Regions from separate parts of the Homo sapiens genome. Here region 1 is linked to region 2. Evidence: fine-mapped expression QTL. Tissue or cell type: whole blood. Region 2 holds a variant in brackets; the other region holds the start of a gene. All regions are shown on one strand. Distances are from middle to middle. Region 1 holds the start of EIF3G (eukaryotic translation initiation factor 3 subunit G). Region 2 overlaps DNMT1 (DNA methyltransferase 1).

Region 1 (5,369 bases), 66 kb after region 2:
GCTTCATATTTTCACCAATATAGCCAGGCCACCCTCCTGAAAGGCCACAGCGGCGTGCCTCTCTTTCCTGCTCTCCAGCTAATGTTTTCCCTTCCACTTGGCTCTCTACAGGCTTCTAGAATAATTTTTTCCACAAGAAAAGTTGGTGATATTCCAAACACTTGAGTGGCCTCCTCACTCACAACTCAGAGGATAAAAAAGCATAAACTTTTTTTTCCTGTCTTCTTATTTATTTTTCTCAGGGCATTCTCCCTTACAAGTTATTTTTTGTTTTGTTGCGTGTGTGTGTGTGCGTGTGTGTGTTTTTGAGACAGGGTCTCTCTCTGTTACCCAGGCTGAAGTACAGTCGCATGATCATGGCTCAACCTCCTGGGCTGAAGCTGTTCTCCCACCTCAGCCTCCTGAGTATCTGGGACTACAGGCACACAGAACTATGCCCAGCTGATTAAAAAAAAAAAATTTTTTTAAGGGCCGGGCGCAGTGGCTCACACCTGTAATCCCAGCACCTTGGGAGGCCGAGGTGGGCCCCCGTCTCTACTAAACCGTCTACTAAAAACACAAAAATTAGCACGGCGTGGTGGTGGTCATCTGTAATCCCAGCTACTCGGGAGGCTGAGGCAGGAGAATCACTAGAACCCGGAAGGCAGAGGTTGCAGTGAGCCGCGATTGCGCCGCTGCACTCCAGCCTGGGCGACAGAGTGAGACTCCATCTCAAAAAAAAAAAAAAAAGTTGTTTTTTAGAGATGGGGGGTCTCACTATGTGTTGCCCAGGCTGGTCGAATTCCAGGGCTGAAGTGATCCTTCTGCCTCAGTCTCCCAAAGTTCTGGGATTACAGGCGCGGGCCACCACACCCAGCTAATTTTTGTATTTTTAGTAAAGACGGGGTTTCGCCATATTGCCCAGGCTGGTCTCGAACTCCTGACTTCAAGAGATCTGCCCATCTTGGCCTCTCAAAGTGCTGGGATTACAGGCGTGAGCCACTGCGTCCGACATTGTCAAACGTTTTTTGTTCATTATCACCCTTCTTAGGAGAAAACCCGAATTATCCTAAAATTGAATTTACATCAACTAAATTAATTTCAATTTAATTACATTTAATATCTCCCTAAAGGCAGAAACTAAATACTTAGGGATAAATGCTGTCTGATAGAGCTGGCTTTGGAAGACCACAATATCTAAGATTTTTTTCCTCCCTGAGGACCAGTTTTTTCCCCTGGGGAGTCATCATGAATCACTTCGACTGAGGACGGTTGTGCTTAGAGCAAGGAGCTGAGCAATAAACAAGTAAATGCACAAAATTATACCGGAAAGCCAAGAATGCTACAAAGAAAAGAAGAGGGAGTGGCTGAGGGGAGGCCACTTGGCATCTGAATCATTGGGATCGGGAAAGAAGACAAGGAACAGTTTAAGCAAAAGGATTGTTTTCCCCGAACTTTGGTTTCTTTTTTCTTTCTTTTTCTTTTTTTCTTTTTTAGAGACAGGGGTCTCACTATGTTGCCCAGGCTTGTCTCAAACTCCTGGCCTCAAGCCATCCCCACGCCTTGGTCTCCCAAAGTGCGGGATTACAGGCAGGCGCCACTGCACCCAGTCTGAGCCTCAGTTTCTTCAGCTGTAAAATGGAAGTAATATCCTCCTCACCATGCTTCATATACAATAAGCACTCAATAAGTGAGCTTTATGATTATTATTATTTATTTTAATTTTACTTATTTTTCTGAGACGGAGTCTCACTCTGCAGCCCCAGGCTGGAGTGCAGTGGTGCGATCTCGGCTCACTGCAGCCTCCGCCTCCTGGGTTCAAGCGATTCTCCCGCCTCAGCCTCCCGAGTAGCTGGGATTACAGGTGCCCACCACCACGCCTGGCTAATTTTTTTTTTTTTTTTTTTTTTGAGACGGTGTCTCGCTCTGTCGCCAGGCTGGAGTGCAGTGGCGCGATCTCGGCTCACTGCAACCTCCGCCTCCCGGGTTCAAGCGATTCTCCTGCCTCAGCCTCCCGAGTAGCTGGAACTGCAGGCACGCACTACCACGCCCAGTTAATTTTTGTGTTTTTAGTAGTGACGGGGTTTCGCCACGTTGGCCAAGCTGGTCTCGAACTCCTTACCTCAGGTGATCCGCCCGCCTCGACCTCCCAAAGTGCGAGGATTACAGGCTTGAGCCACCTCGCCTGGCCTATTTTAATTTTAAAGGTTAATAGGACCAGCCCTGAAATCAGCCTCTGCCCCCGCTGGCCCTACTCTGGTACCAGCAGCGCCCAGTAGCATACACAGCCGCGTGCGCCTCCACCTCCGTCCGCAGGTGTCGCTGTGGGTGCCGCGGCTGGGCCCCTCTAGGCGGCGACGGCGGCACCGGAAGTCTCGTTTTCGCCCGCTTCCGCTCTCTGGCCGGGCTTGGGCTGCGTGGAGAATACTTTTTGCGATGCCTACTGGAGACTTTGAGTGAGTCGGCGATCGCGGAAAGGGGCACGGGAAGCGGTTGGGGTGCTCTGGGAAGTATTATGGGGCCTGGGTACGCCGAGGCTGCGGGAGCCGGGCCTGGCTGACTTAATCTTCGTTCCCCACACATTTGTTTCCGCAGTTCGAAGCCCAGTTGGGCCGACCAGGTGGAGGAGGAGGGGGAGGACGGTAAGTGTACACGGTCGCCCGGGGTATTCGCGGCCAGGCCCAAGCCGTGTGACTGCCGCCTGCTTCCATCTCCCAGTCTGGCACCGTGTACCCCGTCACGGTCTGCCCCTGCCCCGCGCCATCCTCCTTGGGACCCGCCTGTTGCCAACTCCAGGTGTTCCCCGGCGGGTCCCTCTTCCTCCCATGCCACTGCCTCCCAGCTGTTCCCCTCCAGGGAGGAAGTTGTAATCTCCCGTCTCCTGTTTCTCTACTGGCGCCTGGTTGGCTTCATGGCCTGGCACCCACCTTCCTACGAGGGATCTCCCATCCTTGCCACTCCGAGTCCCCACAGGGCCATCCCAGTGCGTTGCCTGGCCAGCCCTCTGCCCTTGGCCTGCCTTTCTCCGCTTTTGCTGTAGGCGTCATCCCAAAAGCCCTTCCATCGCAGCTGGGGAGCTCCTGCCCCTGGAGCTGACTCCTCCTTCCTACGCTGCCTTTTGCAGACAAATGTGTCACCAGCGAGCTCCTCAAGGGGATCCCTCTGGCCACAGGTGACACCAGCCCAGAGCCAGAGCTACTGCCGGGAGGTGAGTGAGGACTGCCGGGAGGTGAGTGAGGACTGCCACTCGGTGTCCGGGCTGCCTCTCCCTCCAGCCCTGCCGCTCCTGATCCCCATGACCCAGGGCTCAGTCTTTCTCTGTTTTTCCCCTTCTGCCAGCTCCACTGCCGCCTCCCAAGGAGGTCATCAACGGAAACATAAAGACAGTGACAGAGTACAAGATAGATGAGGATGGCAAGAAGTTCAAGGTGAGGGTGGGGGGTGCAGGGAGTGGGGACCCTTGTGCTTGGGGGCCCATAGACCGGAATGGGGTGGGGTGTGTTGAGGAGGTTGATAAAGGAGATCCCTTGGTCCCAGGAGCCTGACCCTTCTCCCCTCCCATCCTCAGATTGTCCGCACCTTCAGGATTGAGACCCGGAAGGCTTCAAAGGCTGTCGCAAGGAGGAAGGTGAGGCTCTTCTTCCCCAGGGCTAACCTAGAGGAATTGGAAAACCGTGCTCCCGGACTTTGTGTTTAGAGATGGGGCTTAACTCTTTTTTTTTTTTTTTTTTGAGACAGAGTGTTGCTCTGTCCCCCAGGCTGAAGTGCAGTGGCACGATCTCGACTCACTGCAACCTCCGCCTCCTGGGTTCAAGTGATTCTCCTGCCTCAGCCTCCCGAGTAGCTGGGGTTACAGGCATGTGCCACCACGCCAGCTAATTTTTGTACTTTTAGTAGAGACGGGGTTTTGCCATGTTGGCCAGGCTGGTCTCGAACTCCTGACCTCACATGATCTGCGCACCTAGGCCTCCCAAAGTGTTGGGATTACAGGTGTGAGCCATCGCACCCGGCCAGGCTTACCTCTTTGTACCTATTTTGTTGAAGCTGAACTGAGGCCTGGGGTGCTTGCACTGTCTTGGGGCCCTGAAAAGTCCAAGGCACAGCAGTCGATAAATAGCAACTAAATAAATGATGATAAATATCTAATCAAAGTTCGATGATAGATATCAAATTATATTAATAAATATCAAATAACATCGATTGTAAATATCGAATAAAAATTAGATTCTTTTAATTTTTTTAAAGACACAGTGTCCAGTTCTGTTGCCCAGGCTGGAGTACAGTGGCACGATCATAGCTTACTGCAGCCTTGAACTCCCAGGCTCAAGCCATCCTCCCACCCCACCCTCCTGAGTAGCTGAGATTACAGGTGTGCACTGCCACACCGGCTAATTTTAATTGTTTGTAGAGATGGGGTTTCACTATGTTGCCCAGGCTGGTCTCCAGCTCCTGGGCTTGAGAGATCTCCCACCTTCGCCTCTCAAAGTGCTGGGATTACAGGAGGGAGCCACTGCGCCCAGCCACGGTTAGATTCTTATTCCTCTTGGCCTGTCAACCTGCAGGAACGGAAGCAGGAGGTGGTCGCAGCAGTTTTTGGAAGAAGCGTTAGCAATAAGTATACTTAGAACAGCTTGCTGTGCACTTAATTGTAACATACCCCATGCCAAGCACCTTGCACGAAGTGTTTCTCATTCAGTCTCCTTAGGAGCCCAGGGAGGCAGGAAGCTTTTGTGGTTCCCGTTTTATAAGGGAGGAAGCTGAGGCTCAGGTTGTCTAGCTCAAGGGCCCGGAGGTCTAGGTGGACCCCTGCACATCCCTGAGTATTGCGCCCTGGTGGGAGCTGGTCCGCCAGACTGCGCAGGCCCCACGCTGTGTAGCTGTCACCTGGACCCGGAGGCTGACAGCTGCCCTGCCTCCTGGAGCTCAGGCCTGGCGTGTACTCAGGAAACAACTGTCGCCAGGACTGTTCAGGGAGTGCTTGAGGAGGATGAAGATGGGGTTTGAGGCCCAGACACTCTGGGGGTGGCTGTTGTAGGTCTAGGGCACCCCACTGTGGAACCCAGCCTGCCCCTGCCCTCAACTGTCCCCCATCCCTCCCTGAGCCCAGAACTGGAAGAAGTTCGGGAACTCAGAGTTTGACCCCCCCGGACCCAATGTGGCCACCACCACTGTCAGTGACGATGTCTCTATGACGTTCATCACCAGCAAAGAGGTAAGCGGGGCAATCAGGTGGGGCTGGCATCCTGGGGTGGGGCAAAGGGGGTGCCTTAGCCGCCTCTGAGCTCCCCCCAACCCGCCCCTGCCAGGACCTGAACTGCCAGGAGGAGGAGGACCCTATGAACAAACTCAAGGGCCAGAAGATCGTGTCCTGCCGCATCTGCAAGGGCGAC
Region 2 (5,369 bases):
AGCTAGGACCACAGGTGCATGCTGCCACACCAAGCTAATTACTATTTTTTGTTTAGGCAGGGTCTCTGCTGTGTTGCCCAGGCTGGTCTTGAATTCCTGAGCTCTATTGATCCTCCCGCTTTGGCTTCCCGAGTAGCTAGGCCTATAGGCACATGCTAGCACACCCAGCTAATTACTAATTACTATTTTTTGTAGAGACAGGGTCTCGCTGTGTTGCTCAGGCTGGTCTTGAATTCCTGGGCTCTAGTGATCCTCCCGCCTCAGCCTCCTGAGTAGCTAAGACTATAGGTGCATGCCACCACACCCAGCTAATTACTATTTTTTGTAGAGACAGGTTCTCGCTGTGTTGCCCAGGCTGGTCTCAAATTCCTGGGCTCTAGTGATCCTTCCGCCTCGGCCTCCTGAGCAGCTAGGAGTACAGGTGCGTGCTGTCATACCCAGCTAATTACTGTTTTCTCGTAGAGACAGGGTCTCACTGTATTGCCCAGGCTGGTCACAAATTCCTGAGCTCTAGTGATCCTCCCGCCTCTGCCTCCCGAGTAGCTAAGACTATAGGTGCATGCTACCACAGCCAGCTAATTATTCTTTCTTGTAGAGACAGGGTCTCGCTCTGTTGCCCAGGCTAGTCTCGAATTCCTGGGCTCAAGTGATCTTCCTGTCCTGGCTTCCCGAGTGTAGAGATTACAGGCATGAGCCACTGCGCCCAGCCATGGTCTGCTGTATTTCAGACGAGCATTTCTGGCGTAGAGGTGTTAGAGTAATCTAACATTTTATAATTTCTTCCTATCCAATCTATACTAGATACCTCTGCTGGGTTAGTTTTCTTAACACGGCTCTGATGTCATTGGTTCTACTTCCCCTTGACTGCTTTGGTGTTTGTTAACTATGGAACAAGATGGATAAGTGTGATGCTTTTGCCCTCCCTCCGACTGTCCCCAGCCACCTCTCTGGAGGTGCCTTTCCCTCCCTGTATGTGGCCAGTCTCACGTTTGTTTCTTGTGTGTTTCCAGAACCAGCCACTTCTCAATGGTGCCCCTGTTTGAGCAGCTTCCTGTGCCCGGTTCACACAGAGCTGTCAACTTCTTCCTGAGGCTGTTATACCCTTTCTCTTGGGAATCCCGCAGGCGTGAGCTGTATTTGCCTTATTCCTCTGTGGTTGTTTATATATATCTTTTTTTTTTTTTTTTTTTTTGAGACGGAGTTTCACTCTTGTTGTCCAGGCTGGAGTGCAATGACGTGACCTTGGCTCACCGCAGCCTCCACCTCCCGGGTTCAAGCGATTCTCCTGCCTCAGCCTCCTGAGTAGCTGGGATTATAGGCATGTGCCACCATGCCTGGCTGATTCTGGATTTTTAGTAAAGACGAAGTTTCTTCATGTTGGTCAGGCTGGTCTCGAACTCCTGACCTCAGGTGATCCGCCCGCCTCGGCCTCCCAAAGTGCTGGGATTACAGGCATGAGCCACCGTGCCTGGCCAGCTGTTTATATATATCTTATCTCCCCTCTGCAGAGGGTTCATCTCTGAGGGAAGCACTAGGAAGGAATCATAGGGTCTCAGGCTGGGCACTAAGCCGGCATTCTGAGTCCTCTGCTCCGTCCTTCACGGCTGTCTGCGACCCTCCTGGCTTCAGCAGGTGTGATCGGTGTCATCACAGTTTTACCAGGGAAGGGATGTCGCTAAAGTTACCCTCCCGCCAGCTCCTCACTGCCTGCCTGGGATCCCACCTGCCACTCTGGGGCCAGGCAGGTTAAATCCAGTTTCTACTGGATGAAACATTCTAGGGGTTTTGAAGGTTTCTCTATTCTCTTTGCCAGGCTAAATATCCCAGTTCATATGAGGGGTTGAAAGAAAGCAGACCCATTCTGCAAGGACACCTTGGTCTCCGCAATCAGTTGAACCTTGTCCTTCACACCCCAGGCAACCTCGGGATCAGGGGACTGGCTGGCTTGGTCGAGGTAGAAGCCATGTCCTTCCAGTTTTCTCAGCGGCGTGACTGAGAAGTCAAGTGTAACGCTATTACCACAGCGTGTGTGCCTCTGGCTGGAAGTACCAGTTTCTGTAGCCCTCCTGACTTAAGGCTCTCCTTGGACCCCAGTTGCTACAAGGGTAGAATGACTTTTGCCTGGAAGAGGTTCCTTGTGCTCCTGGAAATCCTGATGTCAAAGCATCTTTTTTTTTTTTTTTTTTTCTTTTGAGACAGGGTCTTGTTCTGTTGCCCAGGCTGAACAGGCTGGATTGCAGTGGTACCATCATAACTCACTGCAGCCTCAACCTCCCAGGCTCAAGCGATCCTCCCACCTCAGCCTCCCAAGTAGCTGGTACCACAGGTGCACACTAACCACACCCAGCTAATTTTTACATTTTTTTTGTAGAGATGGGATCTCTCAGTGTAGCCCAGGCTGGTCTCAAACTCCTGACCTCAAGTGATCCTCCTGCCTTGGCCTCCCAAGGTGCTGGGATTACAGGCATGAGCCACTGCGTCTTGCCTGGCCTTGTAGCACCTTGAGTCCAAGTGATACAGTATATATAATATACAGTCTATATTACCACTGTGTTTGTAGGGTGCTAAGTGTCTCTTCTACAGAGCAGTCTTTTTTTTTTTTTTTTGAGACAGAGTTTTGCTCTGTTGCCCAGGCTGGAGTGCAGTGGCATGATCTTGGCTCACTGCAAGCTTCACCTCCCGGGTTCACGCCATTCTTCTGCCTCAGCCTCCTGAGTAGCTGGGACTACAGGCGCCCACCACCACGCCTGGCTAATTTTTTGTATTTTTAGTAGAGGCGGGGTTTCACTGTGTTAGCCAGGATGGTCTCCATCTCCTGACCTCATGATCCGCCCACCTCAGCCTTCCAAAGTGCTGGGATTACAGGCGTGAGCCACCGTGCCCGGCCCTACAGAATGGTCTTTCCTAACCACACAGCAAGTCAGGAAGTCCCTGCCTAGTGACACCTACATCTAATCACTTAGCTCTTTGCCTGGAGCAGGGCCTGGCATTCAGCAGGTGCTCATATGTG[A/T]GCGGCGCTGGTGGGGAATCAGGGCCCGCATGACCCAGAGCAGCTGTTGTAAGACATGGGTCCAGCAAAGCATTCCTCATGCTGCTGCCTGCACTTACCCTCTAGGAAGGCCAGCCTGGAGGAGCCACTTCTGCCCTTCAGGCAAATGATAACTGAGCACCTGTCTGTGCGGGTGCTAGGTGGAAAGGTCCAGAGATGGCAGTGGCCTGGTCCCTGCCTGGGGCACCTTCTCTCCACCAACAGACACTTACCCAGCTGGTTAGGCCTGTTCTCACCCCGCAGTCTGTAGTTAGCACCCAGGCTGGGAACAACAGCCTGTGTTCCTCTCCCTTTCCTTGGTACCTTCTCTTCTTGTTCCTTTATTTTTTTCTGAAGAGATAGGATCGCCCTATGTTGTCCAGGCTGGACTCGAACTCCTGCCCACAAGCCATCCTCCCACCACAGCCTCCTGAGTAGCTGGGGTTACAGGCACGCAGCACCGCGGCACTGCACCGGCTATTGTTCTTTTATTTTTTTCCCTCTTTGTCCCTGAAAGAGTCAAGCTACTAATTGTCAGTAATCAAATCAGACCACGATTTCCCAGGCAAACTCCTGGCAGTTCTACATTTAGGAATGACTAGCTAGAGACATCCTGAAGAATGAGTTATTCGGGGAGGCGCCAGCCACCTCCTCTAACTTCACCTCTATCTGCCCTCTGTGTGGGTACCCCTTGCTTCCCTGGATGCTTGACTCCCCCATTTCATCCTCAAAATGCCACCACCCCCCACCAGGCCTTTAGGAACATCAGCTGGCTGTTCCCCACAGTGTCCTGTGGCCCTGGGCTACTCATTCTGACACTGGCCATACTGTGGCACACCTTGTTATGGGCTGTTGTCAGACCCAACTGGAGAAAGACCAGCTGTAGGTCATTTCCCTTACGGGAGTGCCCCAACTATATGACCTGCCCCCTCTTTCCTGGTATCTTTTTGAGTCAGGGTCTCACTCTGTCTCCTAGATTGGAGTGCAGTGATGCAATCACGGCTCACTGTGGCCTCGACCTCCCAGGCTCAGGTGATCTTCCTTCCTCAGCCTCCCAAGTAACTGGGACCACAAGCACATGCCACCAAACCCAGTTATTTTTATTTTATTTTATTTTATTTTATTTTGAGACAGAGTTTCACTCTTGTTGCCCAGGCTAGAGTGCAATGGTGTGACCAGCTCACTGCAACCTCTGCCTCCCGGGTTCAAGTGATTCTCCTGCCTCAGCCTCCCAAGTTGCTGGGATTACAGCCACCCACCACCACGCCTGGCTAATTTTTGTATTTTTAGTAGAGATGGGGTTTCGCCATGTTGGCCAGGCTGGTCTCAAACCCTTGACCTCAGGTAATCCACCCACCTTGGCCCTCAGGTAATCCACCCAACTGCTGCTGTATGTTGGGATTCCAGGCATCAGCCACCACGCCCAGCCACTAATTTTTGTATTTTTGTAGAGATGGAGTTTCGCCATGTTTCCCAGGCTGGTCTGAACGCCTGGGCTCAAGTGATCCGCTCGCCTTGGCCTCCCAAAGTGCTGGGATTATAAGCGTGAGCCACCATGCCTGGTCTCTGGTACCTTTTAAAATATACAGGCTGGGCATGATGGCTCATGCCTGTAATCCCAGCACTTTGGGAGGCTGAGGCAGGTGGATCGCCTGAGGTCGGGAGTTCGAAACCAGCCTGACCAACACGGAGAAACCCTGTCTCTGCTAAAAATATAAAATTAGCTGGGTGTGGTGGTGCATGCCTGTAATCCCAGCTACTCGGGAGGCTGAGCCAGGAGAATCGCTTGAACCTGGGAGTCGGAGGTTGAGCTGAGATCACACCATTGCACTCCAGCCTGGGCAACAAGAGCAAAACCCTATCTCAAAAAAAAAAAATATATATATATATACACACGTATATATACGTGTATATATATATACACACACATATGTATACATATATACGTATGTATACACATATATACGTATATATACACATATATATGTATATATACACACATATACGTGTATATATATACGTGTATATATATATGCATGCCAGACATGGTGACTCATGCCTGTAATCCTAGCACTTCAGGAGACTGAGGCAGGCGGATCACTTGAGGTCAGGAATCTAAGACCAGCTTAACCAACATGGTGAAACCCTGTCTCTACTCAAAATACAAAAAATTAACGAGGCTGGTGGCACCTATAATCCCAGCTACTTGGGAGGCTGAGGTGAGAGAATCACTTGAACCCAGAAGGTGAGGGTTGCAGTGAGCTGAGATCGCACCACTGCACTCCAGCCTGGGCAACAGAGCGAGACTCCATGTCTGTCTGTCTGTCTATCTATCTGTATA

What was found. PIP is the estimated chance that this variant, and not a neighbour inherited with it, causes the effect. A credible set is the group of variants that fine-mapping cannot tell apart.
Region 1: EIF3G starts here. The variant in region 2 is the best candidate, but not a certain one, in a credible set for the expression of EIF3G in whole blood (INTERVAL, PIP 0.58).

The regions. Positions count from the first base shown.
Region 1 is chr19:10,116,906-10,122,274 of GRCh38, reverse strand. It overlaps EIF3G (eukaryotic translation initiation factor 3 subunit G), which reads left to right and starts at 2,376. Exons shown (of 11, transcript NM_003755.5): 1 at 2,376-2,435; 2 at 2,575-2,621; 3 at 3,104-3,187; 4 at 3,319-3,407; 5 at 3,548-3,607; 6 at 5,087-5,191; 7 at 5,286-5,369. The coding sequence starts at 2,416. RefSeq lists enhancers at 2,118-2,873, 2,874-3,630.
Region 2 is chr19:10,182,662-10,188,030 of GRCh38, reverse strand. The region is part of intron 1 of DNMT1 (DNA methyltransferase 1); the gene reads left to right. Among named protein-coding and RNA genes, the nearest start is that of DNMT1, 9.6 kb to the left of the region's middle. RefSeq lists an enhancer at 3,596-4,096. The variant A/T (reference allele first, on the strand shown) is at 3,011.